7 linked regions of the Homo sapiens genome follow. The protein of the gene in region 1 interacts with the protein of each later gene in a biochemical or structural test. Each region holds a gene or a part of one and is shown in the gene's direction. Other genes may lie near its edges. The genes, in order: TTC24, HTRA1, SNTA1, LNX1, DLG4, SIPA1L2 and MAST2.

Region 1 (4,070 bases):
ACCATCCTGGGCAACATATCAAAACCCCATCTCTATAATAATAATAATAATAATAATAATAATAATAATAATTATTATTATTATTATTATTAGCCAGGTGTGGTGGCACATGCCTGTGGTCCCAGCTACTTGGGAGGCTGAGGTGGGAAGATCGCTTGAGCCCAGGAGGTAGAGGCTGCAGTGAGCTGTGATCATCTAGGCACTTCAGCCTAGATGACAGAGCAAGATTCTGTCTCAAAAACAAACACACAAACAAAAAAAACAACTTGCAATCACACAGTGTAGTGGAAGGGACCCTAGGCTACTCACCTTGAATCAAAAAACCTAGAGTTGGCTGGGCGTGGTGGCTCATGCCTGTAATCCTAGCACTTTGGGAGGCAGAGGCAGGCAGATCACCTGAGGTCAGGAGTTCAAGACCAGCCTGGCCAACATGGGGAAACCCAGTCTATACAAAAATACAAAAATTAGCCAGGTGTGATGGCAGGCACCTGTAATCCCAGCTACTCAGGAGGCTGAGGCAGGAGAACGGCTTGAACCCAGGAGGCAGAGGTTGCAGTGAGCTGAGATTGCACCACTGCACTCCAGCCTAGGCAACACAGCAAGATTCCGTCTCAAAAAAAAAAAAAAAAAAAAAAGACGGGGTGCAGTGGCTCACACCTGTAATCCTAGCACTTTGGGAGGCCAAGGCAGCCAGATCACTTGAGGTCAGGAGTTCGAGACCAGCCTGGCCAACATGGTGAAACCCCTTCTCTACTAAAAATACAAAAATGAGCTGGTTGTGGTGGCGTGCACCTGTAATCCCAGCTCCTCAGGAGGCTGAGGCAGGAGAATCACTTGATCACTTGAGCCCGGGAGGCAGCGGTTGCAGTGAGCCGAGATGGCGCCACTGCACTCCAGCCTGGGTGATAGAGTGAGACTCCATCTCAAAAAAAAACATAGAGTCTAACCCCAGCTACGTGACTGCTCTGTGACCTTAGTTAAGTCACATCTGCTGTCTGAGGCTTGGTCCCTTCCTCTGTGAAATGAGGGGATGAAGTAGATGATTTCTGAGGGTGTAACTAGTAAGCGCCCCTCTGATGCCTTGATTCATTTCTTGAAGTGAGGGACTTGAGGGGGTGTGTCTGCAGCACTACCGAGGTTTAGCACTAAGATACGGCTTCAGAGCTGTCACTCAAATAATTCCCTACGACTGGAGGGTGGTACCTGGTTGTCTAGTAACCTCTAGGGCTTTGAGCTAACAGCTTGGGAGGTAACCCAAGCCAGAGGGGCCATTCCAGAGAGCCAGCTGCGGAGAAGACCCAAGGAGGTAAGGTGTCCTGCAGTGGGGATCCCCACACTGGATGGGGGTGGTCAGGAATGCCCTGGAGTGGAAGGCCTTGAAAAGGCAGGATTTCTGGGTGTTCTTAGAAGCAGGGGGAATTTCTTTTAAAAGAGACTGCTTTTCCTCTGCCTGCCCCTCCTAAAAAAGGGGAAAAAAAGGATAAAATGGGAGGGGTCAAGAGCCCAGGGCCTGGGTCTTTTCCACTCTTTTTCCCATCTCCTGGGAGGAGAGTTCATAAAAAGCTTTTGCCCTTCAAGGGGAAAAATACAAACAGGATATACAAGCTGCTGAGATGCTTGTATTCAGGTTTAAGAGGGCTCTGGAGACCAGAGCAGGAGGCTGGGGGCCTAGAACCAGCCAGCAGACAGAAAGCGGAAGAAATGGAGAGAGAGCTTCCCCTTGAGCTAGGGAAGGGGCAGTAAATGCATGTTCTGTCCCACACCACACTCCTTTTCAGAAAATCCTTCTCTCCTGGAGGTTCGCTCCTTGCCAATTCAGGAGCCTCCTCACCCTAGGGTCCCCAGTGCCTAGTGTGGTTCCTAGCACATAGCAGGGGCTCACTGAGTGCTTGTTGAACTGACCTGAACTACGTCTTGAGATTAGATAGCAGGAGTACCTAGATGATGAGTGAGGGGGGTGTCTGTGGAGGCACAGTGTGAAGGAAGTTATGGAGGAGAGGCCCTGCATATGCGGTTCCTTCATCTATTTATTTGCAGCTTTTTTTGAGACAGAGTTTCTCTGTCACCCAGGCTGGAGTGCAATGGCGCGATCTCAGCTCACTGCAACCTCCACCTCCCGGGTTCAAGCAATTCTCCTGCCTCAGCCTCCCGAGTAGCTGGGATTACAGGCGCCCGCCACCACGCCCGGCTAATTTTTGTATTTTTAGTAGAGACGGGGTTTTACCATGTTGGCCAGGCTGGTCTCTATCTCTTGACCTCGTGATCTGCCCACCTCAGCCTCCCAAAATGCTGGGATTACTGGTGTGAGCCATCGCACCTGGCCTATTTGTTCAATCCAAAAACACTCGTATGGTGGTAACATATACATAACATACAATTTACCATTTTAACCATTTTAAAATGTGCAGTTCAGTGGCATTAAGTACACTCACATTATTGTGCAATTAACACCACTATCCATCTCCAGAACTTTTTCATCTCCTTTCATAAACATTTATTGAGAATCTACTGTGTGCCAGACCCTGCAAGTTGCTCCAAATCTAGTAGTGGGGGGAAGACAATAAAGTCATCAGCTCTGACCCAGTGTGATAAATGCTATAAAAGACATAGGCATCAAGTGCTATGGGACCACAGGAGTACCCAGTTGGTTGAGAAGAAGGTGCGTTCTGAAGTAAGCTGTTACTTGACTTGAGTCTTGAAGGAGGACTAAGAATTAGTCAGGAAGTTAGAGTGAGAGTGGATATGGTGCCCAATGGGACAGAAGAAACAAAGTGAGAGATCAGAGAGCAATCCTTGAAACCCTGAGGGTCATGCTAGGGCAGGGGTAGAGCTGAATTGCCCTAAGGGGGTCCTGCTATCTAGAGGAAGCCAAGGCTGACATACTGAGCCCTCTGTTCCCCTTTGTCAGCCCTATGTCTTCCCCCAACCCTGAGGATGTGCCCCGGAGGCCAGAACCTGAGCCCTCAAGCTCCAATAAGAAAAAGAAGAAAAGAAAGTGGCTGCGGCAAGAAGCCAGCATCCAAGCCCTCACCAGGGCTGGCCATGGGGCCCTTCAGGCTGGCCAGAACCATGAAGCCTTGAACAACTTCCAGAGGGCCTTCCTTCTGGCCTCCAAGGCCCCACAAACCAGGGATACCCCTGTGCTCCAGGCCTGCGCCTTCAACCTGGGGGCTGCCTATGTGGAGACTGGGGACCCAGCCAGAGGCCTTGAGCTACTCCTGCGAGCCCACCCTGAAGAGAAGGCACAGGGCAGGCGACACGGCGACCAATGTTTCAATGTGGCTTTGGCCTACCATGCCCTCGGCGAGCTGCCTCAAGCTTTGGCCTGGTACCACAGGGCCCTGGGCCACTACCAGCCACAGGGTGACCAGGGAGAAGCCTGGGCAAAAATGGGAGCCTGCTACCAGGCTCTGGGACAGCCTGAGCTAGCAGCCCACTGCCTGCAGGAAGCAAGCCAGGCCTATGCTCAAGAGAGACAGCTGCGGGCCGCAGCCCTGGCACTGGGGGCTGCGGCAGGATGTATGCTGAAGAGTGGGCGGCATCGGGTGGGGGAAGTTGTGCAGGTGCTGGAGAAAAGCCGGAGGCTTGCCGAGAGGAGCACTGAGAGGCGACTGCTGGGTGAGACCTTCGGGCAGGGAAGGCATGGGATCTGGGGAGACACAGAGCCTGATGATACTCAGAGGGCTGGGTTTGGGGAACCCTGGAGGAGTCGATAGGGGCTGTACCAGCCTCATTTATATCTGGTCTGGCTACCAGTGACCCTGGCTATTCCCTCTAGGGCACCTCTATAACGATCTAGGCCTGGGCTACTCCCAGCTCCAGCTGTTCCCGCTGGCCGTGGAGGCCTTCCTGCAGGCCCTGCCCCTGTGCTGGGTGCCAGGAGAGCAGGCCACAGTGCTAAGAAACCTCGGGATGGCCCACAATGCCCTCGGCAACTATCAGGAAGCTCGGGAGTTTCACCAGAAGGCTGCTGACCTACACGGTGGGTGCCTGGGGCCGGGGAATGGGACTGGGACTAAGACACTAAGAAGGGGTTCCAAAAGGGGCCCAAGGCTTAAGGGTGGATGGCC
Region 2 (4,338 bases), on another chromosome or scaffold:
GAGTTGCTGGCACCATGCGAGCCGCCTAATTTATTGCTAGTGAGGCAAGTTGCTTAACAAGTTTTGGAGTTGGCTGAGTCCCTGTGTGGAGGAAAACAGGTCCCCCATTGGCCATCGGGCTCACAGCGGGCCCCCGGTGTACCAGTGAGGGGACAGCCACAGAGGGATAAGCATGGTGGCTTTGAAAGGAGGGAGAGACAGAGTGGGTACAATGCTTTTCTTATCCCTCCCTCCTTCTTTTGCAAATATTTATTGAGCTCTGTAGGGTGTCTGACACCGTTTGCATGTTTGTCTGTCTGGCACATCGGAGGTACTTGGTACGAGTGGATTAGTGAATGAATAAATGAATGAATGAAGACAAACGGGAGGTGCTTGCGATACACAGCCATTCTGTTTTTCCTTAGTGGAAGGCACTGCTTTGCTGCGCCCCCTCTCTGGATCTCACACTCCACCCTTGACTTTTCGGAGGTGTTTCCGAGGACAGGCGCCTGGGAGCCAGCAGACTTCATTCAGTCCAAGCCAGGCTCCAGGACTCAACAGCTGGTGCCCACGGGCAGGTCACTTGACGTCACTGTTAAATGAGGTGAATTGGCTGCCTGCTCTGGCTGGAAGATTGGCGGGAGAGTCACTTTAGCTGCCATGGACATGAGCCTTTTCTAGGGGTGCCACTTGACTAGAGGCCTGGAGTTGGAGCAAGTCATACACGGATCTGGAGACAGAGCTCTCGAGGCAGGAGCGGGTGCTGCGATTTCAAATATTATAAGGTGGCTTTGTCTGGGGCAGAGCATGCCAGGGGATGAGAGGTAGAAATGTCATCAGATCAGGGGTCCCCAGGGAGGTGACTAGCACTTTGGGTCACAGTAGATCTTTGGATAGAGGAACATGTCACCATTCAAAGGAAAGCACTTTCATCTGTAAGCTGTTTATTGAATAGACCTCAGAGAACATCTCTGCTCACCGCTCTGGAAATGAAGGCAAATCATCTATTTCAGAAGTCAATGCACTGGCAGGGTTTGGATGGGAAAGTATACAATTCAGCTAGAGAACAAAGATCTGTCATCTCCAGCTGTACTGGTCAGATGATTACAAAAAAGAAAGGAATTGAAATACTAATAGGGTACTAATAATGAGGGCTAACATATATGTTGTGCTTATTCTATGCCGGGTGCATACTAATTCATTTGATCCTCCGGACAGTCCTATGAGTGAGTGCTGTAGTCTTCCCTGGGTTACAGCTGGGCAGCTAAGTCACAGAGAAGTACCTTGCTCAGGACTGGTGGTCCCACACAACTGGATGGAGAGCCTCGTTCATAACCACCATGCTGTGCTGTTGACAGAGCAACAGAGATTTTAAACCAACCCCAGCTAAGCCCCAGCTAATAGCTGAAATAAACAGGGCTCCAGATGGCTGTGGCTTAGAGATGGAACAGGACAGATCACAGCCTTCACTCTGCAGGCTCAGGAGCCTGAAGACAAGGTTGCCTCCAGTTGCCGTCAGTGCAGCCCTCACTAAAGAAAAGCAAAAAGAGCCGAGGGACTGTAGGAAGGCTGTTTCCAAGCCAGAGATCCAGACAAACTGCTCTTGAAGAGAGAAAGCCCTTCCAGATTCCCCCATGTCCCAAAAGACCAGCCGGGATTCCGGACCTCTGCTAAAACATGGACAAGAAGCCAGGAACGAGACCTGAAACAGACTTCCCAAACAGCAGAAGCCTCATCCATTTCTCCTGCTAGTACATCCTCCAGGAAAGCCCACCCTACTCCATGCAGCAGCCCAGACAAGCTTGGAGGTCTGCAAGCTGCAGGGGTGCCCAGAAACTCCACCCCTGGAGGTTTTTAGGATCGCCTGCTCCTGGTCTCACCCCAGAGCCTCTAAAGGCAGAGGCTGTATGTACATACCTGGTGAAGAACCAAGGGCTTAGATGGTTGCTTTACTTCTTGGAGCCCTGGAATGTTTGTAAAATTTACTTTTTTTTTTGAGACAGTGTCTCGTTCTGTCGCCTACGCTGGAGTGCAGTGGCGCGATCTCGGCTCACTGCAAGCTCCACCTCCCGGGTTCATGCCATTCTCCTGCCTTAGCCTCCAGAGTAGCTGGGACTACAGGCACCCGCCACCACGCCCAGCTAATTTTTTTGTATTTTTTGGTAGAGACGGGGTTTCACCGTGTTAGCCAGGATGGTCTCCATCTCCTGACCTTGTGATCCGCCCGCTTTGGCCTCCCAAAGTGCTGGGATTACAGGAGTGAGCCACTGCACCCGTGCCAAAATGTACTTTATTTAGGTGACTCTTTCGTGGGAACCTCAAACAAGCAATCATTGCTAGCTGAGTGCTGACCCTGTACTGAGCTCTGGGGAGACAGGGTTGAATAAAACAAAGTCACTGCCCACAGGTAACTTATATTCAATACAATGGGGGAAAATACAATCACTGCTTCCCTGGGGTTGTATTTTTCCATTGTTAAAGTGGGCAGTTTGCTCGAGAGTCATTTTCACTATTGGCAATTCAAATACACCTTTTGTCAGTTAAAAAACAAGTGTGCCAGGGACCTGAGCTTCATCTTAGGGCAGGGTGGGTGGAAACATTTGTGAGTCTCCAGCTTTTAGTCACCTGAAACTTGGAAACTTGGAGGTCTTTTGAGCAGTTTATGAGTCTCTGCCTGCTCTGGTCGGCTGCCTTCTTTTATTGCTCTGTTGGTTTTGCTAAAGAGTTAAAATATTAAGGCTTCATAAAATTAGGAAGTTAACAAGCTCAAAAACCAAGTGTTTGAGTTACTTCATTCCACTGAGAGAGCTGTAAATGGGTTGCATTGGAACTTAAAATAACTGCATTGAGTAAGTGATGGTGGCGGGCACCATGAGCTAACTGTGGTCAGAAGCCTGATGGCCTCCGCTTTGGGGCTGGATTCTCCGTTTGGAGCTGTGTGATCCTGGATGAGTTTCATGCCTTGGATTCAGAAATCAGACTTTCCATGAGCTTATATTTCAAGTGAATAAATAGCTCTGGTCAGGCTTAATTTGAAGAAGAAGTAAGCTTGGCAGTGGGTGAGGGTTCCTTGGAAGGCCAACTGGGGCGGAGGGGCTGAGGGCAAGCGGCTCTGGCCCTTCCTGGGGTGTTACCTGACCAGGTAACAGCTCCCTCGACCTCTCGGAGCCTCGGCAGTGAGGGGATTGGGCCAGTTGATCTCTGAGGCTCCTTTTAACTAGAATGGTCTGGGATTTTTCTAAGAAAACAAGTCTTTGAGGAGGTTGTGGTCACCTCATTCCTAATTTAAAGCCTGGGGAGGCTTCCTTATGAGCTACTTCTTTTTCCTAAATTATTGATGGTTAAAGCCAAGGCTGGCATCGAATAGATGTGATCCATCTTGAGCCTGGTTGCTTTGTGTTTCAGCTTTGTACTGGCTGCTGAAGTCCCCGGGAGACCACAGGGGTGACATGTTCATCTCCAAGAGATGAGCTTCCACGAGACTCATACCCCTTGCTCCTTCCCTGGGGCTCCAAGGCCTTTGGGTCATCTGAAGTGAGATACCCTTGTGTCATTTCATCTTTTCCTTCTCCACCTTCTCTGCCGTTAAAAAAAAAAGAAGAAAGAGAAAAATCCTATTAATAGAGAAACCGAGAAGTGTAGCCATTCTGAATGTGTTTCCAAAAGGCTCCTGGAAGTGGCATGGAAGTTACAGTGATTCAGCACTACTTGGTGACGTGTGCCTAGAACCACAGGGGGACATTAGCCAGGACAACACGCCTCAGGACAGAAGTAAGTGGCTGCGAAGAGGCATGTCCATCACTGCCGGAAAGATGCAGAGTTCAGTTTTTGGAGTCAGTGCTGAGAGTTCCATTTCTAAATTCATTCAGAGCATTTATTTAACACCTACTGTGTGCTCAGAAGTGTATCAGGTATGGGGACTCAGAGGTAAGGGCTGGTGGCCCCTGATCTCAAGGTACTCGTGGTAGATAGTATGATGCTCAGCTTAAGGGCTGGGCTTCTGAAGTCGGATTGCCATTTTCTGGATGTGTGGTGTTTCTTGGGTGACTTCATCTCTAAGTCTCAGTTTCCCCATCAGTAAGATAAGAGAAGTAATAGCAGATACATACGTAGCTCTTAGGGCATTGCAGAATGGAAGGACCTCCTTATATGAAACGCAAAGCACTGTGCCTGATGCATTGCTAGAACTCAGGCAATATTAGCGTGTTGTCATTGTCATCATCATCATCATCATCATCATCATCATCATCATCATCTTCAAGGCACTGACAAAGGAGTCAGCTGTGTGGGAGGAGTGCTGGGACACTCTTGTCTCCCTGGGGATGAGGTGGGTGGGTGGGTTAGGAAATCTTCACAGAG
Region 3 (4,338 bases), on another chromosome or scaffold:
CCAAGAGGCCACAGAAGCAAATAGGTTCTCGGTCCTTGGTTGACCCAGATATAAAATAAAATAAAATTTAAATAAAGAAAATAAAATGTAAAGTTTTATTTTATATTTTAGGTATATCTATTTAAATGCCATGGATGCATTTTTTTTTCTTGTTTTTTTTTTTTTTCGAGACAGGGTCTTGCTCTATCACCCAGGCTGGAGTACAGTAGTATGATCTTGGCTCAATGCACCCTCCACCCCCCGGGGCTCAAACAATCCTCCCACCTCAACCTCCTGAGTGGCTGGGACTACAGATGCATGCCACCACACCTGGTTAATTTTTTTTTTTTTCTGAGATGGAGTCTCACTCTGTTGCCCAGGCTGGAGTGCAGTGGCATGATCTCGGCTCACTGCAACCTCCGTCTCCCGGGTTCAAGCAATTCTTCTGCCTCCGCCTCCTGAGTAGCTGGGATTACAGGCACCCACCACCATGCCCGGCTAATTTTTTTATTTTTAGTAGAGATGAGGTTTCACCATATTGGCCAGGCTGGTCTCAAACTCCTGAGCTTGTGATCCACCTGCCTCAGCCTCCAAAAGTGCTGGGATTACAGGTGTGAGCCCCTGCGCCTAGCTTTTTTTTTTTTTTTTTTTTGAGATGGAGTCTTACTCTGTCGCCCAGGCTGGAGCAGTGGCGCGATCTTGGCTCACTGCATCCTCCGCCTTCCAGGTTCAAGCGATTCTTCTGCCTTAGCCTTCCGAGTAGCTGGGACTACAGGTGCGCACTACCACGCCTGGCTAATTTTTTTTTTGTATTTTTAGTAGAGACAGGGTTTCACCATATTGGCCAGGCTGGTCTCGAACTCCTGACCTCGTGATCTGCCTGCCTCGGCCTCCCAAAGTGCTGGGATTACAGGCGTGAGCCACCACACCTAGCCAATTTTTTGTAGAGACAGGGTTTCACCATGTTGCCTGGGCTGGTCTCCAACTCCTGGGCTTAAGGGATCCTCCCACCTAAGTCTCCCAAAGTGCTGGGATTGCAGGCCACAGTGCCCAGTCTAGATGCATTTTTTTGATACTTAAAAAAAGCTGACTCTAGAGTGTTGATCCTTAGAAGCTTAAGTGTATCAATCATATTTTAATGGCAAAGTTAAATAATAGAATGCCACATAAATGATATGGATATAAGAGACTTTCCCCACATGCCTCATTACTTTGATATTTATAGTCAGCAATGCGGTTTGAAACCACTGACATTCATCGAAATGTCATATTTTAGTTGACTTGAAAGCTCTTTTAGCTTCTGTTGTTTGAAAGTTTAGTCTATGGTAAAATTTCTGCTATAGACACAATTCAAATCCACATTCACACGGAGGTCCCCTCACCTCCTCATCTTTATTTTTTATTTTTATTTATTTATATTTTTGAGACAGAGTCTTGCTCTGTCACCCAGGTTGGAGTGCAGTGGCGGGATCTCGGCTCACTGCAAGCTCCGCCTCCCGGGTTCACGCCATTCTCCTGCTCAGCCTCCCAAGTAGCTGGGACTACAGGTGCCCGCCACCACGCCTGGCTAATTTTTTGTATTATTAGTAGAGATGTGGTTTCACCGTGTTAGCCAGGATGGTCTCGATCTCCTGACCTTGTGATCTGCCCGCCCCGGCCTCCCAAAGTGCTGGGATTACACGCGTGAGCCACCGCGCCCGGCCCACCTCCTCATCTTTAGATTAAAAATGTATCTATCTGGGTTCCCATGTATGTCGTTTTGAGAAGGTAGTATCTGTAAATGTGTGACCTTGAAGCATCTTCTGACTTTAGGAGTGAATACTCAAGCCTTCCCTCTAACTCATGTCATGCATTCCTCCTCACTAAGCCAAGAGACATTCATGGACATCTACTGTGTGCCTGCTGTGTATATTAAGGTCAGAAGCTAAACTACACCCAGGGCCTCTCCTGAAGGAGCTCACCATGTGGTAGGGTAGACAAAACATAAACACTATCTCCTCTACACAAACTGTGTTTTTTTCTTGAGGCAGGGTCTCACTCTGTTGCCCAGGCTGGAGTGCAGTAGTGCGATCTCAGCTTACTGCAACCTCCTTCTCCCAGGTTCAAGCGATTCTCTGCCTCAGTTCTGTAGCTGGAATTACAGGTGTGCACCACCACGGCCTGGTTAATTTTTGTATTTTTAGTAGAGACAGGGTTTTGCCATGTTGGCCAGGCTGGTCTCGAACTCCCGGCCTCAGTGATCTGCCTGCCTGGGCCTCCCAAAGTGCTGGGATTACAGACGTGAGCCACCATGCCTGGCCTACAGAAACTCTTTAAAAGCCGGTGGCTAGGTGCTGTGACTCACGCCTGTAATCCCAGCACTTTGGGAGGCTGAGGCGGGTGGATCACCTGAGGCCAGGAGTTTGAGACCAGCCTGGCCAACATGGCGAAACCCCGTCTCTACTAAAAATACAAAAATTAGCTGAGCCATGGTGGCGCGTGCCTGTAATCCCAGCTACTCAGGAGGCTGAGGTAGGAAAATCTTGAACACGGGAGGCGGAGGTTGCAGTGAGCCGTGATTGTGCCGCTGCACTCCAGCCTGGGCGACAAGAGCAAGAATCCATCTCAAAAAAAAAAAAAAAAAAAAAAAAAAAGCTGGTGCCTGAAATCCTGTCTGCTCTGCAATAAATCTCTGTTTGGCCTTGGGTAAGACCCTTGCCTTCTAGGGGACTCAGTTTTCCTATTGAAGTTAGGCTAGATCAGAGGTGATCAATAGCTTTTATTTAGAGTGGCAGCTCCAGGCAGGCGTGGTGGCTTACGCCTGTAATCCCAACACTTTGGGAGGCTTAGGTGGGCAGATCACTTGAGCCCAGGAGTTCGAGACCAGCTTGGGCAACACAGTGAGATTTCATCTCTGTAGGAAAAAAAAAAAAAAGAGTGTAAGCGTCAGCTCCACTGGTGGTTCTGTGAGTTCCATATTTGGAAGGATTGGGAGGCTTTGTCTGGGCTCAGCAGAAAGGAGCTGGAATTGATTAGCAATGTCTACTACAGATGCAGTAGAGAAGTAACATGTGTATCATCCCAGGACTGAGGGGCCCCTGCTCTTATATTCTCTGAGATGTTTCACAGGACGAGATCATTCCTTGGTGAACCCTGCCTATGGCCTGGGTAAGAGAAAGAAGAATGTGGCCTTCATGTTTTTCCCCACTTTTCCTTAGTTGAAGTCTTTTTCGACCTATTCTCCTGGCCCAAGATCTCATGGAAGGAGGTCATTCCACTCAAGATAGCACAAAGAGGGGAGGAGGAGTGGTGGAAGGCACTGGAGTCAGGAATCTCTGAATGGCAAGAGTGATCAGAGAGGTCTGAAGGATAGGAGGATGCTGGGCTGTGGCTGGTCCTTGAGACTTTGGGGAGTGGAGAAGGTCTGGGCCTGGCAGTTGCACCAGTCTGGAGCAGCCAGGGTTCCTGGGACCCTCTCTGGGCCTAGGTTTCCCCGGAGTTGAATCACTGACCACATTGTTCAACATTTCCCCACTCACATCCCATTACTGAGGACGCCTCCAAGGGGCCATGGAAGGATGGCCTGTCCTTTGGATGTGAACTTGGCAAGGCAACTGGATATTTTTCCAGCTCAGTGGATAGTGAATCCCCTGAGGATGTCCTGGGAGAACAAGCATTACCAGCAAACTCCAGGTGTCAGCTAGAGCCTTACTTCCCTGGCCTAAGTTGGGGGCTCAGCTGAGCCTCAGCAACCCCAACCTGCCTCCTAGAACATTTCTTCTACTAGGTCAGGGGTTTGCAGAAATGTCCTGATCCTGTTCTCAGCCAGAGGGGTGTGTTTGTGACCACAGTCTGGGCCCAAGTTGGCAGCCAACAAGTGTCTGTCCGCTGCTTCGAGAGGCCCGTTGTGTGTGCAGACCTCAAGCCAGGGCCAGCCTGGGCCCTTGAAGGCCAGGCCTGGGGGAAGAGGGAGGGACAGCCTCAAGGAAAACACCCTTCCCTCCTCCCATTCCAGTGTGGCTGGCAGGACTGTGACAACAGTGAGCCTGTCATGCATTAAAAATAATGCTGGCTGGGCGCGGTGACTCATGCCTGTAATCCTAGCACTTTGGGAGGCTGAGGCAGGCAGATCAACTGAGGTCAGGGGTTCGAGACTAGCCTGGGCAACATGGTGAAACCCCGTCTCTACTAATAATATACAAAAATTAGCTGAGCATGGTGACACGCGCCTGTAATCCCAGCTACTCGGGAGGCTGAGGTAGGAGAATTGCTTGAACCCAGGAGGCAGAGGTTTCAGTGAGCCAAGATCGAACCATTGTACTCCAGCCTGGGGCAACAAGAGCAAAACTCCATCTCAAAAAAAAAAGAAAAAAGAAAAAC
Region 4 (4,338 bases), on another chromosome or scaffold:
TCCCAAAGTGTTTACTTGAGATTTTTAAAACAAGGTCCTAGTTCCTGAGAGTGAGTGAGTTGTGTGCTCTGGGAATGAAGATGCAGAAAAGGCATTGTCTTAGTCCATTCATGCTGCTATAACAAAATACACTATCCTAGGTGGCTTGTAAACAACATAAATTTATTTCTCACAGTTCTGGAGGTCAAGAAGTCAAAGATCAAGACACTAGCCGGTTTGGTGTCTGGGGATGGCTACTTCCTCACAGATGGCACCATCTCACTTTGTCCTTACATGGTAGAGGGGCAAACAAGATTCCTCCAGCCCCTTTCATAAGGGCTGTAATCCCCTTAGGAGGGACCTGCCTTCATGACCTAATCACCTCCCAAAGGCCCTACCTCCAAATGCTGCCGTGTTGTGGGTTAGGATTTTAACATCTGAATTTTGGGGAAACATGTTCAGACCATAGCAGGCAGGAAGAAAATATCTCCACCACCATTGTCTGAGTCAATGCAAAAGAGCATGGAATTTCAATGCCCTCATTTCATGACCTTTCTCCCCTAGCCCAATAACCATCCCTGTATAGGAAGAAAGCTGGCAGGTCACTGCCCCTTCTCTGTTGTGGTGGTGAGTGGGCAAGGGATGGGATGAAGAGAGGAACCACCAAACCTTACTCCTCTCTCTTCCATCTCCCTTGTCCCTAAACCAGGTCTGTCTTGGGAATCTTTCTAATCAAATCTTCCATATCTCATTCATTTTCAACTTTTACTAAAGTGATAAATGAGGTCAGCTGGCTACTTCAGCCTAGGCCACCAGAGAGCTCTATTTATGTGAGTTTCATAGGTCTAAGATTTAGTCTGAATGACCTGCAGCTCTGAAATCTCAATGGTCAGCAATTCTGGAATAATGGCCCATACTACCTGACACATGTGAAACTAATCTGTGGCAGAAAGACAATTTGTAAATGTATCATTGTATTTGTCTGCTCTCATGCTGCTATTAAAGACATACCCGAGAATGGGTCATTTATAAAGGTTTAATGAACTCACAGTTTTACATGGCTGGGGAGGCCTCTCAGTCATGGTGGAAGATGAAGGAAGAGCAAAGGGATGTCTTACATGGTGGCAGACAAGAGAGCCTGTGCAGGGGAACTCCCATTTATAAAATCATCAGATCTCGTGAGACTTACTATCTCGAGAACAGCATGGGAAAGACCCACCCCCATGAATCAGTTACCTCCTGCCAGGTCCCTCCGATGACATATGGGAATTATGGGAGCTACAATTCAAGGTGAAGTTTGACTGGGGACACAGTCAAACCATATCGATGATGTGGAGTGGACCTTTCCAATAAGTACTATATTTGCTATTCTGAATGCCTGTCCAAATATCAATGTACATAGCAGAGAGAATTAGCAGAGTAACTGGTAGTTCCATAAAAAATAAAGAAATCAAGGCAAATTACTCTTTTGCAGTTTTTTAAACATTTTGTATTTCAATAGCTTTAGGAATACACGTGGTTTTTGGTTACATGGATGCATTGTATGGTGGTGAAGTCTGAGATTTTAGTGCACCTGTCACCTGAATAGTGTACACTGTACCAAATAGGCAGTTTTTCATCCCTCACCCCACTCACCCTCCCCTTTTCTGAGTCTCCAAAGTCCATTATATTACTCTGCCTCTGCATCTCCAGAGCTAAGCTCCCACTTACAAGTGAGAACATGCAGTATTTGATTTTCCATTCCTCTGTTACTTCACTTAAAATAATGGCCTCCAGTTCCATCCAAGTTGCTGCAAAAGACATTTTTTCATTCTTTTTTGTGGCTGAGTAGTATTCCATGGTATATACATACCACATTTTCTTTATCTACCTATCAGTTGATGGGCACTTAAGTTGATTCCATGTCTTTGTGATTGTGAATTGAAGGTAAAGGATTTTGATTAGGTTGTACATATTAATGTATGAAGTCATCCCCATATTTCTAAAGTGCTAAACCTTTCCTATGCCCAAATATTTGCAAGTGTCAGGCTCAGGATTTCTCTTCCTGCAGTGGCAAGTTACTGCCATTAACTCCATCTCTTTTTCTTTACTGTGTACCATTGATCTTAGATCTTTGCTTTGGGCTGCTACTTTACACAGTGCACCTAATTCTATCTGGGAAGAACTTAGGGCATGGCTTGTGTGTGGTACAACCATTAATTAAAAATGAATTAGCAATATCTGATGATGCCTTTTCAAAGATTGGAAGGAACCAAACCTTCCCTAGTTTTCCCTTGGAGCAACATTTACTACCTGGTTTAAGGATAAAGGAAAGAGCTCTCATGCTCTTGGCAAATTACAAGATGGATAGTAACAAAAAAACCCAACAAACTAGAAATCATGTTTTGCCATAAAAAAATGGTATAATCAAAGTGATGTTTTTGTAAGCTCCTGGTGCTGAATGCAGTGGATGGAAACTGACAGTGGCTAATGCCTGTGTCTTCTTGCCCAGGCCAGTGAAAGACGTGTTCACCTCGTCGTGTCCCGCCAGGTTCGGCAGCGGAGCCCTGACATCTTTCAGGAAGCCGGCTGGAACAGCAATGGCAGCTGGTCCCCAGGGCCAGGGGAGAGGAGCAACACTCCCAAGGTGAGGCCTCTAGGGCAGGTCGCCTGCTCCTGCAAGGGGCTATTTCTTGGGAAGGCTGCTTGTTTTAACATGTCTAAGTGTCATCTCTGGACTTTTTTACTTAAAGAAACACTTTGACTTGTAAAACTAAAAGCCCAAAGTCCCATATTTAAGACTTGGAGAGATAACAGGTGTCTCCCATCCAAGCAGGAGAGAAGAAGGTGCAGGAAAGTTTTGAAACCTGATCATGCAGACCTCATACAGGGACCTGATTTCTAGCCTAAGCCAAATAAATGGCATGTTTTTACCAAGAGTCATCTTGTTTGAGGACTTATTTTATTCACTTTGAAATGAAGCAAGCAGTTTGCCTGGTTTCTGGCTTTTGAATTTTTCAGTCTGCCTAGAAATGAGTGATTTCCCCGCTACTTTTAGTTTTTGTTTGTGTTTGCCGAAGGGCCCAGGAAGATAATTTAAACACTTGAAGCTCATGTAACATTAGGGAGTGGTGGGGATTGGGGCAAACCAGAGAGCACATGTTATATGGCATTCAAATCCAGAAAACTCTAAAACACTGTGGATCTGTGGGTGGAATTCATTCTTCAGGCCACCAGTTTGCAGCCTCACTTTAAATGAAGTGACTCAGCCCAATTTGTACTTCTCTCTGTGGCTTCTATTAGAGGCAATGCCTTAACCTCTTCATTTGGATGCGTGTTTAAGCAACACAAACCTTGTTTAGTCCAAATTAAGAGTCCTATAGCTTTGGCTTGGCATCCTGTTGTGATGCTGATGAGCTTCTTTCAGTCATCTCTCCTGAGTTCTGGTTTCATGGCATCACTTGTAACTAAAAAAAATTCTTAAAGGTAGCTCATTCTTCTTGCAACAGAAAGTAGGGAATGCCCTTTTCTTTCTACGTCAATCTATATGTTGGTTGGAATAGCTTACAAATTGAGTTTTTGAGTAATATATAGAGAAACAATATTCAAATTTTTTATTTTGGAACATCTCTGCTTTATACTATGTTAATTACATAGCCTACAAGGTTATACACCCCTCCAGGTTCTCCAGCCAGCCAAGCCTCATAAATCCATAAATTACCTGTTTCTCTACAATAAGGAGTCTAGACAGACCAGATATATCCTGCTAAAACATTTTATGGATAAGGACTCCGTGATGTCTTTTTGCTAGTAAATGCTTAATGTTTAAATTTAACTGATCATCTTTATTAATGAAAAACTAGTTTATTAGCTTAATTAATTAATTGAAGTTTTTATCCAATTAACTAATTTTAGTTGAATTAACTAGAATACGTCATATTCTAAGTCATCAAATTATGGAGAAGGTAGCCTCCATCTGCACTGTGGTTTTAGAATTCCTTCCACCTCCTCATCATGAAAGAGCTGGGAGGATCTGGTCACATTTCTGCTGCAACCCTCTGTCATATGTCTTAATTCCTGGAAACGTGCAAACTGACTTAGTCGGAATTGTAATTATTTCCGTTTTAACTTATATTCTATCTGACTTCTGAAATATCCTCACAAAAAAGTAACATATTTAAAAAAACTGAGACATATATGGCTCTTTGATTATTTCAGTTTTTATATTCTTACTAAAATCTTGTTTGGTTTAGGAAACCAGGTAGCTTTTTAAAAATAAGAGCTTAAACAATTCAAAGAAATACCAAAGAAGACAAAGCAGGATTTGTGGGACAGAAAACTTTTAGCCAATTAAAAAAGTTAAGGAATGCTAGGCATCAA
Region 5 (4,338 bases), on another chromosome or scaffold:
ACTGCTTTAGAGATTTCAGACAGTGTAACAAGACAAGGAGAATAGTTACATTTGGAAGGGAAAAACAAAAGTTATCTCTATTTGTAAATTATACTACTGTGCATCTAGATCAAAATCTAAGTGAATTAACTGGAAAAATATGCAAAGTTAAGAATGTGGCTATTTGTTGGCTGGGCGAGGTGGCTCATGCCTGTAATCCCAACACTTTGGGAGGCCAAGGCGGGCGGATCACCTGAGGTCAGGAGTTTGAGAACAGCCTGGCCAACATGGAGAAACGCTGTCTCTACTAAAAATACAAAAAAAAATTAGCTGGGTGTGGTGGCGAGCGCCTGTAATACCAGCTAATCCTGAGGCTGAGACAGGAGAATTCCTTGACCCTGGGAGGCGGAGCTTGCAGTGAGCCAAGATCTCACCACTGCACTCCAGCCTGGGCGATAGAGCGAGACTCCATCTCAAAAAAAAAAAAAAAAAAAAACCAAAACAGGCTGGGCGCGCCGGTGGCTCATGCCTGTAATCCCAGCACTTTGGGAGGCCGAGATGGGTGAGTCACCTGAGGTTGGGAGTTCGAGACCAGCCTAACCAACATGGAGAAACCCCATCTCTACTAAAAATACAAAATTAGCCGGGCATGGTGGTGCATGCCTGCAATCCCAGCTACTCAGGAGGCTGAGGCAGGAGAATTGCTTGAACCTGGGAGGCGGAGGTTGCGGCGAGCTGAGATCGCGCCATTGCACTCCAGCCTGGGCAACAAGAGTGAAACTCTGTCTCAAAAAACGACAAAAAAAAAAAGGAATGTGGCTATTTGTAAGATAAATAACAGGAATTAGTAACTTCCCAGCAATAAGAAAATGTAGTGAATAAAAAGCCCCCTTTTGCCATAGAAAAAATTTCTATAAAATTATTAGAAATAGAAACTTGACAAGAAATGTAAGATTTGTATGAAGAAAATGACAAAACTTTACTGAAAGACATAAAACAAGACTGGAAGGGGTGAGGAGTCACACCGTGTCTCTGGATGGAAAAACTTAATATGCTAAAGATCTCAACCGGCTCCAAATTAATCTACATTCCATTCAATCCTAATCAGAATTTTAATGTTGTTTCCCTACTGGGAACTTGGAAGGTTGACACTAAAGTTTGACTGGAAAAATTTGTGTGGAAAAGCTAAGACATTTTGGAAACAAATAATGAGGTGTGGCAGCCCCTACAAAATATGAAATAATACTGTAAAACCATATTAAAATCATGTGGTACTATTCCTAAATACCATAACCTAACAAAAGGAACCTGGGCTCCTTGGAAGAAGGGTCAATTTAAAATCTTTTTTTTTCTTTTCTTTTTTTTTTTTTTTTGAGACGGAGTCTCGCTCTGTCGCCCAGGCTGGAGTGCAGTGGCACGATCTTGGCTCACTGCAAGCTCCGCCTCCCGGGTTCATGCCATTCTCCTGCCTCAGCCTCCCGAGTAGCTGGGACTACAGGTGCCCACCACCACGCCTGGCTAATTTTTTTGTATATTTTAGTAGAGATGGGGTTTCACCGTGATAGCCAGGATGGTCTTGATCTCCTGACCTCATGATCCCCCCACCTCGGCCTCCCAAAGTGCTGGGATTACAGGCCTGAGCCACCGTGCCCAGCCAATTTAAAATCTTTGGCAATAAATCTGTAAGATGAGCTTCTAACTTCTTTCATACTAGAGAGCAAGGAAGGTATCCAGGACTAATAGGGTCTCAGCAAAGACACAGGATCCAAACTGAAGGTGCTTCTACTGTCCAGTGAAAACTCGTTAAATATATTAAAATCTTTAAGATCATAATAATACTTAAAAATATTTTGGCTGGGCGCGGTGGCTCATGCCTGTAATCTCAGCACTTTGGGAGGTTGAGGCAGGCGGATCACCTGAGGTCAGGAGTTCGAGACCAGCCCGCCCAACATGGCGAAACCCCGTCTCTACTAAAAATACAAAAAATTAGCCAGGCGTGGTGGTGGGTGCCTGTAATCCTAGCTGCTGGAGAGGTTGAGGTGGGAGAATCCCTTGAACCTGGGAGGCAGAGGTTGCAGTGAGCCAAGATCGCACCACTGCACACCAGCCTGGGCGACAAGAGTGAAACTCCATCCCAAAAAAATAAATAATTAAAAAAAAAATTGGAGGATGCTAGGCAATCTCATTCATTCTGAAATTGGTGAATGAATGGAAAGAGGCATGCAGAGAGAGGCATGCATTTATCCTCCCTTTCATGTACCAGCTACCTCAGAGAGTAACCAACAGGTTGACATAGGGCTGTTTTTTTGTTTTTGTTTTTGCTTTTTTTTTGTTGGAGGCAGGTCTTGCTTTGTCACCCAGCAGGCTGGAGTGCAGTGGTGTGATCTTGGCTCACTGCAACTTCCGCCTCCTGGGCTCAAGCGATCCTCCCACCTCAGCCTCCCGAGTAGCTGGGATTACAGGCGAGTGCCATCATGCTCAGCTAACTTTTTTTTTTTTTTTTTTGAGATGGAGTCTCACTCTGTCACCCAGGCTGGAGTGCAGTGGCACGATCTTGGCTCACTGCAACCTCTGCCGCCCGGGTTCCAGCAATTCTCCTGCCTCAGCCTCCCGAGTAGCTGGGATTACAGGGCCCTGCCACTGCGCCCAGCTAATTTTTGTACTTTTAGTACAGATGGGATTTCACCATCTTGGCCAGGCTGGTTTTGAACTCCTGACCTTGTGATCCACCTGCCTCGGCCTCCCAAAGTGCTGGGATTACAGGCGTGAGCCACTGCGCCCAGCCTCAGCTAACTTTCAACTTTTGTCTTTTGTAGAGATAGGGTTTCACCATGTTACCCAAGCTGGAGGAATTTTTTTTTTTTTTTTTTGAGAGGGAGTCTCGCTCTGTCACCCAGGCTGGAGTGCAGTGGCACAATCTTGGCTCCTTGCAACCTCCGCCTCCTGGGTTCAAGCAATTCTCCTGCCTCAGCCTCCCGAGTACCTGAGATTATAGACGTAAGCCAGCACGCCCAGCCTATTTTTGTATTTTTAGTAGAGACGGGATTTCACCATGTTAGCCAGGCTGGTCTCAAAGTCTTAACCTCAAGTGATCTGCCTGCCTTGGCCTCCACAGTGCTGGGATTACAGGCATGAGCCATCGTGCCTGGTCGAGATTTTTCTTTTTTACAGAAGAATTCCCACTAGTAAATGACAATCACCACCATTTTGCAGTCCTTGATACTTATCAGAACCAGGCGGTGATTGTCAGTGTGGCTAAAACTTACCTGAAAGGCTGATGGGGCGCTAGATAATGGATGGACTGGGCTGATGACCCTGAACCTACCATTAATCTTACCTGACAGAAAGACAACCAGGCATTATTGCATCCTGTGGTGATGCTGTAGGAAGAACGTAGCGCTACCTATGAAGTATACAGGAGTTACTAAAAAAAACTCTGAATTGAACTTGAAACTGATCAAGCCTCCAGAATGAACTGCCAGTTTACAGGAGATACAGGGGCAGAGGCATAGGCTAAACAAACCACAGGAGGGTAAGCAGTAATTTCCCTGTTAGAATTTCCCTCATAGGCTGGTCAAGGTGGCTCATGCCTGTAATCCCAGCACTTTGGGAGGCATAAGCGGGTGGATCATTTGAGTTCAGAAGTTCCAGACCAGCCTGGACAACATGGTGAAACACTGTCTCTACTAAAAATACAAAAATTAGCTGGGCATGGTGGCGCGCGCCTGTAATCCCAGCTACTTGGGAGGCTGAGGCATGAGAATCACTTGAACCTGGGAGGCAGAGGCTGCAGTGAGCCAAGATCACGGCACTGCACTCCAGCCTGAGACTCCTTCTCAAAAAAACCCCAAAAAAACAAAAGAATTTCCCTCATAGAATGTGGGAAATTCTTTTAGACAAATGACCTAGTTTTTTCAACGAATGGATGGCAGAGAGGTGGGGGGAAAAAAGAGGGAGAAGAATTTTATGGATTAAGAGATTCGAGTGACACAGGAACCCAGAGAAAACCCCCAAAGCGTAATATTAATGCTCCCTTTGACTTCCCCATCCCTGGCATACTGAGGACATATAACGTTCAAATCCTTTATCCCCTAGGACAACCAGCCTCTGATGTCACCTATAAATTCCTGACCCCTGATGTCACTGTGATCTGATATCCCCTTACCACCCCACCCTGGCATCTCTGGCAGAATATCTTCCCTTCCACCTAACTTTGGCTCTTCTGGCACCCTGGGGAGAAGGTTGGGTGGCGGGTGCTGTTTCCCTCCAGGCACTTTCATCTCTGCCCTGTCTTCCTCAGCTTATTCCCAGCACCTGGACAATGAGATCAGTCACAGCAGCTACCTGGGCACCGACTAC
Region 6 (4,338 bases), about 76 Mb from region 1:
TTTATGTTTTGAAATCATAGATTTTCTCAAAGAGCTTTAATTGTATGGAATGTAACTTTTAGTCTAATAAGGGAATTATCAGATCATGATTTGGCTTCTATGATGCTTACTGTAGTTAAAGCTGTGTAATATGGATTTGGAAGGTGTTTTTTTTTTTCTCCCCCTCACCCCGCAAGACTGGGATGGTGTTTTGAAGGGTTCCTTGATACCTGAGCTTAGTAAACACTTGTCCACCTTGGGGATCTTTTTACCTGAGGCAAAGGAGAAGCGGGTTATTATTTTGAAATTAGCAGTCTATTTCTGAAAGTAAGGAAATACTAGCTACCCTGAAAAACCAGTTGTTTGGTAATTGAAACTGGTTTAAAAGCACTGTGTTTGGGCATCGAAACTAGTTTAAAGGGATTGTGTTTCCTGCATACTTTGCAAAGAACTATGTGTTTATGTGGATACAGCCCCTTGCCCCCAACCATAATTGGTAAATGCAGCGTTATTTTTTGAGATTGAGGAAGGCATTGAGTTTTTGAACTTCTGATCAATTTATGGTGGTAGTTGAGGATTACAAATCCTTTTAAAGACACACTGAATTTGAAGAAAATTTAGACTAGGGTATTGTTAATTGAAAAGCTGCTTTTTTTTTTCTTTCTGTTTTGAACTTCAATGAAATACAAAGTACAGTCCTAGAGAATAGTGAACCATGTTCTAGGTTTTCTACTTCTGTTAATGTGCCTAATTCATTTGCAGAGTGAGAGTAGAAAAAGCTTTAGGCACAGACAGGAACCTTGAGCTTCCTGCCTCTACCACCTGTCACAAATGAATTTGGATGAAACTATTTTCATGATCCCTTTCAGCACCAAAATTTGGGGTTTCTTTAAGGTTTAAGACGAACGCATTAGAGTAATGAAAATGCCTGTCTGACTGGGATGTTTATATTTTTCATGATTATGTCATTTCTTTGCCTTGGCCTATAGTAAGTTTGTATGTGAATGCTTTGCATGAGGGTCATAGCTACTTGGTTTACCTTGAAATCAATGATTCAGAAATTGCTTTTTGTGTTCCAGTTGCATGTAGCTGTGACTCCTTTTAAAAGTGTGGTAACAATGTGGTAGGAATTTAAAAGCTTCCCAACTTTAGACATAGATTATTTTGATCCTTTCTGAACTGGATTCATAAACTTTGGTTCCAAAGAACAGCAGCTGTAGAAGGGAGCCAGATCTTGACTCACTGTTGAGGTTCTGCTTCTTGAGAGATTTCATATTTAGTGCAACCCAATTCCTTGGTTCGTTCTTCTCCCCCAGTACTAGATAGCCAAGTTGGGTGGTAGGAAGGAAGAAAATATGCAGCAAGTCGAGTCTAGTTGTCATGCTCCTTTGGGCCAGAAAGGACCTTAAAGATTGTCTCGTCATGTTGTTCCTATACCTTTTGTTTTCGTCTACCTGTAAAATGAAAAAAAAAAAAAAAAGCAAATATTAGGGATTGTCAGATATGTCAGCATTTAATGTTGCTACATAAGTGTGTTTAAAATTGACAACAGCAGTTACTACCTATTGTCAATGCATTTCGTCAAAATCCTTTTGATGTACCAAAAAAGAGAAAAGGTGGGGAAAGGGGGAAGAATATGTATGCTGTCAGACTTAAAGGAGAGTTCTTCCTATCCAGAGAGGAGCTGTGTTAAAATTACCCCACTCGTGGATTTATATCTATCCCCACACAGACACTTTTTTCTTTTGCATGGGTCAATGAAAAATTCACTAAGGACCGGGGTTTAGAAATCACTGAGTAGCTCAACTAACCCTTCTTTGATATTTGGATCCTTTTATATAATCTCTGTAAGTGGTCTTCCGGTAATACCTGAACATTGCAAGTAACGGGTGGTGATTTCCACCTTTTAATGGTTTTGAGTACTAGAAAGTTTTTTGGCCTATAGAATTGAAATCTGATTCTGCTTGTTTATTCAAATTCTACTGCCTTGGTGGCCTACAGAACAAATCCTTCAGTCTCTGTCAGAGTTGGGCTCTTGGTGTAACGTGACCCGTGAACATGACCTGTGTAGAGTACAGCAGGAGTGTCTTGTCATAGGTTGCATGTTGCTTGCACTGATGTAGTCCAAGTTTGCATTTACTTTTCTGGTGGCCAGACTCAACGAGTTTCCTTTTCGCTAAAACCTGCCGAGCCGTTAATCACATGCTGCCATTGAACCTCGTCTTTCCATCTTGCGCTGATGTCATTGCAAAACCTAACATTTATTGCGCTGTGGTTTTGCTTTATTTTAGCTGATTCTTTCCATCATGCTTTTTAGAATTTGATTATATTATTTGGCACCTTTACCTGTCCTCCCAAAGAAATGCTGTCTGTACATTATTAGATCAGACTCTTTTATATCTTTACTTAAGCCGGTGATGAAATTGTTAAACTGGCTGAACAACACGAAGTGTGTCTCTGGAAGCTTCCCTCGAGGCTTACAAGGAGTCACACTCTCGGTTATAGTTAACTACTAATGCTCTTCATATCTTATAACTAGCCCATATAGCTCCACCTTTCCACATGGATATCCTGAAAGAGTGTGTCAAACCTCCTTTGCTGGTTCTACTGACCAAGTTATGCTGAGTAATAATGAGTTCATTTTCAGTGTGTCCCTAGTAACGAGCACTCTCTTCTGCATATGATTAAGAAAATGTGTTAAATGACTGACTGGATTGAGACACTAGGGTCACACTGTGATCTGTGACCTCCGGAGGCCTTAGGAACTGCAGTGCTTCTAGGAAAAATCAGAATATTGTTGGACTTTCTTCAGCTTATTTTTTGGTTTGGTATTCTCTTGTGTTGAATTGCTTTCAGATAGTGGGGAAGAACACCACAGTCTCTTCCGGTTTTGTTTTAATTGGTTGATATACTTCTCTTCCTATTTTACTAATAAACATTTAGCCAAAAGGGGTGTCTTGAACTCTGCCCATTAGATTACTCCATATTTTTCACTTCTACATATTTGCTTAATCTTCTGAGAAATATCCCCATTTAGTTGAGTTCCTCAAGAAATCAGAACAGTCCGAAGTAAGCTATCTGGTAGTTTATTCAAACTCTTAAGTAAAAATATCTAGGTAAAGAGCCAGTGTTAAAAATTGTTATTGTGGAAAGTAAGAACTCCTGGGTGAATAAAAGATTATGTCTGCTGAGATGAACTATTGTGTGGAGTTTTAAAAGAAAGTTCTGGTTAATGCTTAAGACATAGTGTCCTGTGAAGTCAGCATAACTACTTTCACTGTCTTCTGGAGGTGGTTTTGATAACACATTTGGTTCCTTGTTGAACAGTGGGTATTCACATTGTTCAGGAATAGCTTTGGGATACTGTCCTCTCCGTATTGAAGTTTCTAATAAGTAATTTTAGGAATTATAGTTTTGATTCTTTGTACAGGGCAAATGCTACCTGTTTCAGGTGTTTAAATGGCCTAATGCAAGAAACAGTGGTTTCTTTTTAGCAGGTTCTCAAGGTTCTCAAACTTTTTTCAACGTGCATCCCATCTATACACAATTGTCTAAGTGTTCATGTATGTATGCGTATACATGTATACATATCTGCATGCACGTTTGTGTGTGTGTATATGTATAATATATCTGTATGTATAAACATATACTTTACTGTGCTAAGATATTATGGACATAAAACAAATGTACATTTTAAGAAGATTAATATTAAAAATAAATAGATGTAGAAGTATTTTCTCTGCATCTCAAGGGCATTTGTATCTTTGAAATGTGTGGCCCCTGTGTAGAGACCACTGTTGTACTATCACTGGTTAGAGTTTATAGCAGTTGAGAAATGGAATTTCTAGGGAGCCTGTAGGGTCTTGTGAGGCAAGCGGAAGACAAACTCCACTCTTGATGGGCCTTATATTTACTGTGTATTTATTCTTTTTCCCGAAGACATTTCTGACTTTGGCCTGTTTTCTTCCAGAATTGCTTGTGGGTCTTGGTTTGGGGTTTCATTTATTGAGGGGTAGGAGGTTAATGTAATGGCGATGCTATTCTCCTTAGAAAGTTTCTAATTGAACTCAGCTGTTTTTTTGTTTTGTTTTGTTTTGTTTTTTGAGACAGAGTCTCGCACTGTCACCCAGGCTGGAGTGCAGTGGTGCGATCTTGGCTCACTGCAAGCTCTGCCTCCTGGGTTGCTGCCATTCTCCTGCCTCAGCCTCCCAAGAAGCTGGGACTACAGGTGCCTGCCACCATGCCTAGCTAATTTTTTTTTGTATTTTTAGTAGAGACGGAGTTTCACCATGTTAGCCAGGATGGTCTCGATCTCCTGACCTCGTGATCTGCCCGCCTCGGCCTCCCAGAGTGCTGGGA
Region 7 (4,338 bases), about 110 Mb from region 1:
AAGGAAATAAAGGGTATTCAATTAGGAAAAGAGGAAGTCAAATTGTCCCTGTTTCCAGATGACATGATTGTATATCTAGAAAACCCCATTGTCTCAGCCCAAAATCTCCTTAAGCTGATAAGCAACTTCAGCAAAGTCTCAGGATACAAAATCAATGTACAAAAATCACAAGCATTCTTATACACCAATAACAGACAAACAGCCAAATCATGAGTGAACTCCCATTCACAATTGCTTCAAAGAGAATAAAATACCTAGGAATCCAACTTACAAGGGACGTGAAGGACCTCTTCAAGGAGAACTACAAACCACTGCTCAGTGAAATAGGATACAAACAAATGGAAGAGCATTCCATGCTCATGGGTAGGAAGAATCAATATCGTGAAAATGGCCATACTGCCCAAGGTAATTTTTATAGATTCAACACCATCCCCATCAAGCTACCAATGACTTTCTTCACAGAATTAGAAAAAACTACTTTAAAGTTCATATGGAACCAAAAAAGAGCCCGCATCGCCAAGTCAATCCTAAGCCAAAAGAACAAAGCTGGAGGCATCATGCTACCTGACTTCAAACTATACTACAAGGCTACAGTAACCAAAACAGCATGGTACTGGTACCAAAACAGAGATATAGATCAATGGAACAGAACAGAGCCCTCAGAAATAACGCTGCATATCTACAACTATCTGATCTTTGACAAACCTGAGAAAAATAAGCAATGGGGAAAGGATTCCCTATTTAATAAATGGTGCTGAGAAAACTGGCTAGCCATATGTAGAAAGCTGAAATTGGATCCCTTCCGTACACCTTATATAAAAATTAATTCAAGATGGATTAAAGACTTAAACGTTAGACCTAAAACCATAAAAACCCTAGAAGAAAACCTAGGCATTACCATTCAGGACATAGGCTTGGGCAAGGACTTCATGTCTAAAGCACCAAAAGCAATGGCAACAAAAGCCAAAATTGACAAATGGGATCTAATTAAACGAAAGAGCTGCTGCACAGCAAAAGAAACTACCATCAGAGGGAACAGGCAACCTACAAAATGGGAGAAAATTTTCGCAACCTACTCATCTGACAAAGGGCTAATATCCAGAATCTACAATGAACTCAAATTTACAAGAAAAAAACAACCCCATCAAAAAGTGGGCGAAGGACATGAGCAGACACTTCTCAAAAGAAGACATTTATGCAGCCAAAAAACACATGAAAAAATGCTCACCATCACTGGCCATCAGAGAAATGCAAATCAAAACCACAATGAGATACCATCTCACACCAGTTAGAATGGCAATCATTAAAAAGTCAGGAAACAACAGGTGCTGGAGAGGATGTGGAGAAATAGGAACACTTTTATACTGTTGGTGGGACTGTAAACTAGTTCAACCATTGTGGAAGTCAGTGGGGCGATTCCTCAGGGATCTAGAACTAGAAATACCATTTGACCCAGCCATCCCATTACTGGGTATATACCCAAAGGACTATAAATCATGCTGCTATAAAGACACATGCACACGTATGTTTATTGCGGCACTATTCACAATAGCATTTACTGTTTTTCTTTCCTTGTATCCTATTTACTACTCAATCTTCTGCCTTCCAGTTTCCCTTCCCACCAGTCTACCAAAACTGTTCAGGCAAAATTCACCAAGGAACTCACTGGCCAATTGCCAAATCCTGTGGCCACTTTCAGTTCCCATCTTCTGCCACCTCTCGGTGGAGCACAGTGAATACTTCCTAAACTTCCTTCCCCAGTTGTCAATTCACTGTTCTCACCACTCTTGCTGCCTCTTCACAAGTTCCTTTGCTGCCCACCTCTTCCTACTGGTGTGTCACAGGGCACCATCCGGCATGCCTGGTCTCCCCTTTCTCTTTCCTCCACTCTCTCTCTGATGTCTTGCCACCTGCTCCCATGTCTTCAGTTGTCATCTCTACGCTGAGGACTCCCACATGTGGCTGCCACTCTTACTGTTCTCCTGAGCTTCAGATCAGTGCACCCAGCTGCCTGCTGGACTCCTCCACTTTGACTTCCCTATATTGGTTCTTATTCTTTGGTTGCACGTAATAGAAACTGATTCAGAATAGTTTAAACAGTAAAGGGAAACATTATAAGAGTAAAAGGAGTAGGTCTTAGAGAATTGAAGCGAGGGATATAACCAGGCCTTAAGAAGGAACCAGAACTAGAAACCAGAAGCTCCAGGAAGCTCAGGAAGTCTTCATTCTTCCTTTTTCTGTATGCATCTTTTCCTCTATTTCCATGGTAGGTATGCATCTCTTTTCACAGTTCTTAAACGGTTCTGCCACACTGACGTTAACAGTTGTCTTTCTATCCTTTTTTAAATTCCTAGGAAAGTGATCCTCTCTGGTCAGCTATTAGAGGTGGGAGGGAAGGTACAGACACACAGTACAAATGTGGCTCCTAGAAACCAGAGCAGTTCTCAGGAAAAAAGAGAAAGGCCCATCGGCCAAGCAGATACCCAAGAGACTCTCATATAGGTGCCTGAAACTGCACGCCCAGAACTGAGCTTATCTTTTCTGCCTAGCTGTTCTTTCTCTAAAACCAAATGCAGTACATTCTTTACCTATCACCTAAATGGCTTCTTATAGTTACTATTTCACTTATTCATTGTAATTTTCCTAAAATTGAAGTTGTAGTTGCCTTCTGTCGTGCTTCTTTCACCCCTTATCTGCTTCTGTAGTAACCCACGTCTATCCCCTTGTCTGCATTCTTCTGCCTTGACCTATGCCTTTTTCATCTGAATTATTAGAGTTGCCTGCTAATGGGTTTTCCTGCATTTAGCCTTGCCCTCTTTAGTGTACTCTCTACACTGCAGCCAGAGTGATCCTTCTGAAGTACTTTCTGGTCATATGACTCCTCAGCTTTGAGGTCTTTCTACTCCTTACAGTCTAGGGTGGAAAGTGAACATCAGTGAAGGCACCATTGAGAGCTGCCCCTTGAGCTAGGGTCTGGAGGGTAAGTGAGGCTTGTTGGATGGAGGAGCAGGTACAGCTGTATGTCTGTGTGGCATTTCTTGGTGTCATGTAGTGTTCTAAAGCAGAAATGGTTCCCTATGAGCAACTCGCTCCCTCTCACAGCCAGCCAGCCTTCTCTGAGTTCCTTGCTTTGCGGAGCTCTCTATGCTACCGAATTGTTTCTCCCTGGAGTCAGCTCTGCCCTGTCTGGTCCTGCTTAGCCCAGCCACACTGGGCCAATAGATTAAGCAACGCTTCTTTTCTCTATAGGCTCATGAGCGCTCAGAGAGCTCAGAAGTGGCTTTTGTGATGCAGCTGGTGAAAAAGCTGATGATTATCATTGCCCGCCCAGCACGTCTCCTGGAATGCCTGGTGAGTGGACTCTAGGAAAGTCAGGTGGGCAGATTTAGAGGAGGACTATAGAGGAAGTATCCTGATGACAGCAAAACTGTGGTGGTAACCACTGCCATTTCTGTTGCTTAGGTCCTTATTTAAATATGATTTGCCACCATTGGGGGACTAAACAGGTTTTTGTGAGGACAAATGTATGGTCCTGAGGGGATGCGGCAGGGAGAATTATTAGTCTAGGCCACCCCCACATGAGCAGGGCTCACATCAGTGGGGGTCTTGGGGGTGAGAAGCGTCAGGAGCATAGCCCAGTTTAGTTTGTACAAGTTGAGTCCTTCATTTTATCTTCAGCAATACTTGACTGAGTACCTACTTCCTGCTAGACACTGGAGATACAGACATGAATAAAGCACAGTCTCTGATCTTGGGATGTTTCCTCTACAGTGGAGTTGGGAAGCATGAGGCATGAGGACATGTAAATAGTAATTACAATACTGCAAGAAGTGTTGCAGTTGAGGTCAGTACACAGCGTAACGGGAACCTGGAAAAGGAAGTGCTTTAGTCTTCCCTGGAAGGAACATTCAGTGAATGCTCCCTGGGGGACGTGAGGCTTATTCAGCAAACTGAAGGATGAGTCTAAGTTTCCCAGATCGGGAGCATGGGAAGGAGCATTCAGTGGGGCACAGGGTGGGTTTGAAGAAGTGCTGAGGGGTAAGCCTGGAAGGTAGGCTGTGACAGGGTCATGGAGGGTGTCGGGTTCTCGGCTCTGGAGTTTTTCATTACCCTTACGGCCACTTGGAGACACCAGAAAGTTTAGGTAAGAATGTGACATGGCCGCATTTACTTTTTTCTTAAAAAATATTATTAAGGTATAATTTTCATACAATAAAATATATCCCTTTGATGGTACAGTTCATTGAGATTTAACAAATACACACTTGTAGAATCGTGGCCACAGCTGACATAGAGAATATTTCTGTCATATAAGTTCCCTTGTGCCCCTTTGAAGTC

The links.
Region 2: the proteins of TTC24 (region 1) and HTRA1 interact in a test that uses a peptide from one of them, tested with the Homo sapiens proteins (one large-scale study listed by IntAct).
Region 3: the proteins of TTC24 (region 1) and SNTA1 interact in a test that uses a peptide from one of them, tested with the Homo sapiens proteins (one large-scale study listed by IntAct).
Region 4: the proteins of TTC24 (region 1) and LNX1 interact in a test that uses a peptide from one of them, tested with the Homo sapiens proteins (one large-scale study listed by IntAct).
Region 5: the proteins of TTC24 (region 1) and DLG4 interact in a test that uses a peptide from one of them, tested with the Homo sapiens proteins (one large-scale study listed by IntAct).
Region 6: the proteins of TTC24 (region 1) and SIPA1L2 interact in a test that uses a peptide from one of them, tested with the Homo sapiens proteins (one large-scale study listed by IntAct).
Region 7: the proteins of TTC24 (region 1) and MAST2 interact in a test that uses a peptide from one of them, tested with the Homo sapiens proteins (one large-scale study listed by IntAct).

Annotation. Positions count from the first base shown.
Region 1 is NC_000001.11:156,578,453-156,582,522, forward strand, and holds the start of TTC24 (tetratricopeptide repeat protein 24), read left to right. Parts: upstream 1-1,270; 5' UTR 1,271-1,306; intron 1,307-2,908; 5' UTR 2,909-2,912; coding exon 2,913-3,618; intron 3,619-3,778; coding exon 3,779-3,982; intron 3,983-4,070.
Region 2 is NC_000010.11:122,464,209-122,468,546, forward strand, and holds part of HTRA1 (serine protease HTRA1 precursor), read left to right. Parts: intron 1-4,338. UniProt on the Homo sapiens protein: Serine protease with a variety of targets, including extracellular matrix proteins such as fibronectin. HTRA1-generated fibronectin fragments further induce synovial cells to up-regulate MMP1 and MMP3 production.
Region 3 is NC_000020.11:33,433,257-33,437,594, reverse strand, and holds part of SNTA1 (alpha-1-syntrophin), read left to right. Parts: intron 1-4,338. UniProt on the Homo sapiens protein: Adapter protein that binds to and probably organizes the subcellular localization of a variety of membrane proteins. May link various receptors to the actin cytoskeleton and the extracellular matrix via the dystrophin glycoprotein complex.
Region 4 is NC_000004.12:53,479,987-53,484,324, reverse strand, and holds part of LNX1 (E3 ubiquitin-protein ligase LNX), read left to right. Parts: intron 1-2,470; coding exon 2,471-2,605; intron 2,606-4,338.
Region 5 is NC_000017.11:7,196,994-7,201,331, reverse strand, and holds part of DLG4 (disks large homolog 4), read left to right. Parts: intron 1-4,279; coding exon 4,280-4,338. UniProt on the Homo sapiens protein: Postsynaptic scaffolding protein that plays a critical role in synaptogenesis and synaptic plasticity by providing a platform for the postsynaptic clustering of crucial synaptic proteins.
Region 6 is NC_000001.11:232,623,352-232,627,689, reverse strand, and holds part of SIPA1L2 (signal-induced proliferation-associated 1-like protein 2), read left to right. Parts: intron 1-4,338.
Region 7 is NC_000001.11:46,016,347-46,020,684, forward strand, and holds part of MAST2 (microtubule-associated serine/threonine-protein kinase 2), read left to right. Parts: intron 1-3,249; coding exon 3,250-3,351; intron 3,352-4,338. UniProt on the Homo sapiens protein: Appears to link the dystrophin/utrophin network with microtubule filaments via the syntrophins. Phosphorylation of DMD or UTRN may modulate their affinities for associated proteins. Functions in a multi-protein complex in spermatid maturation.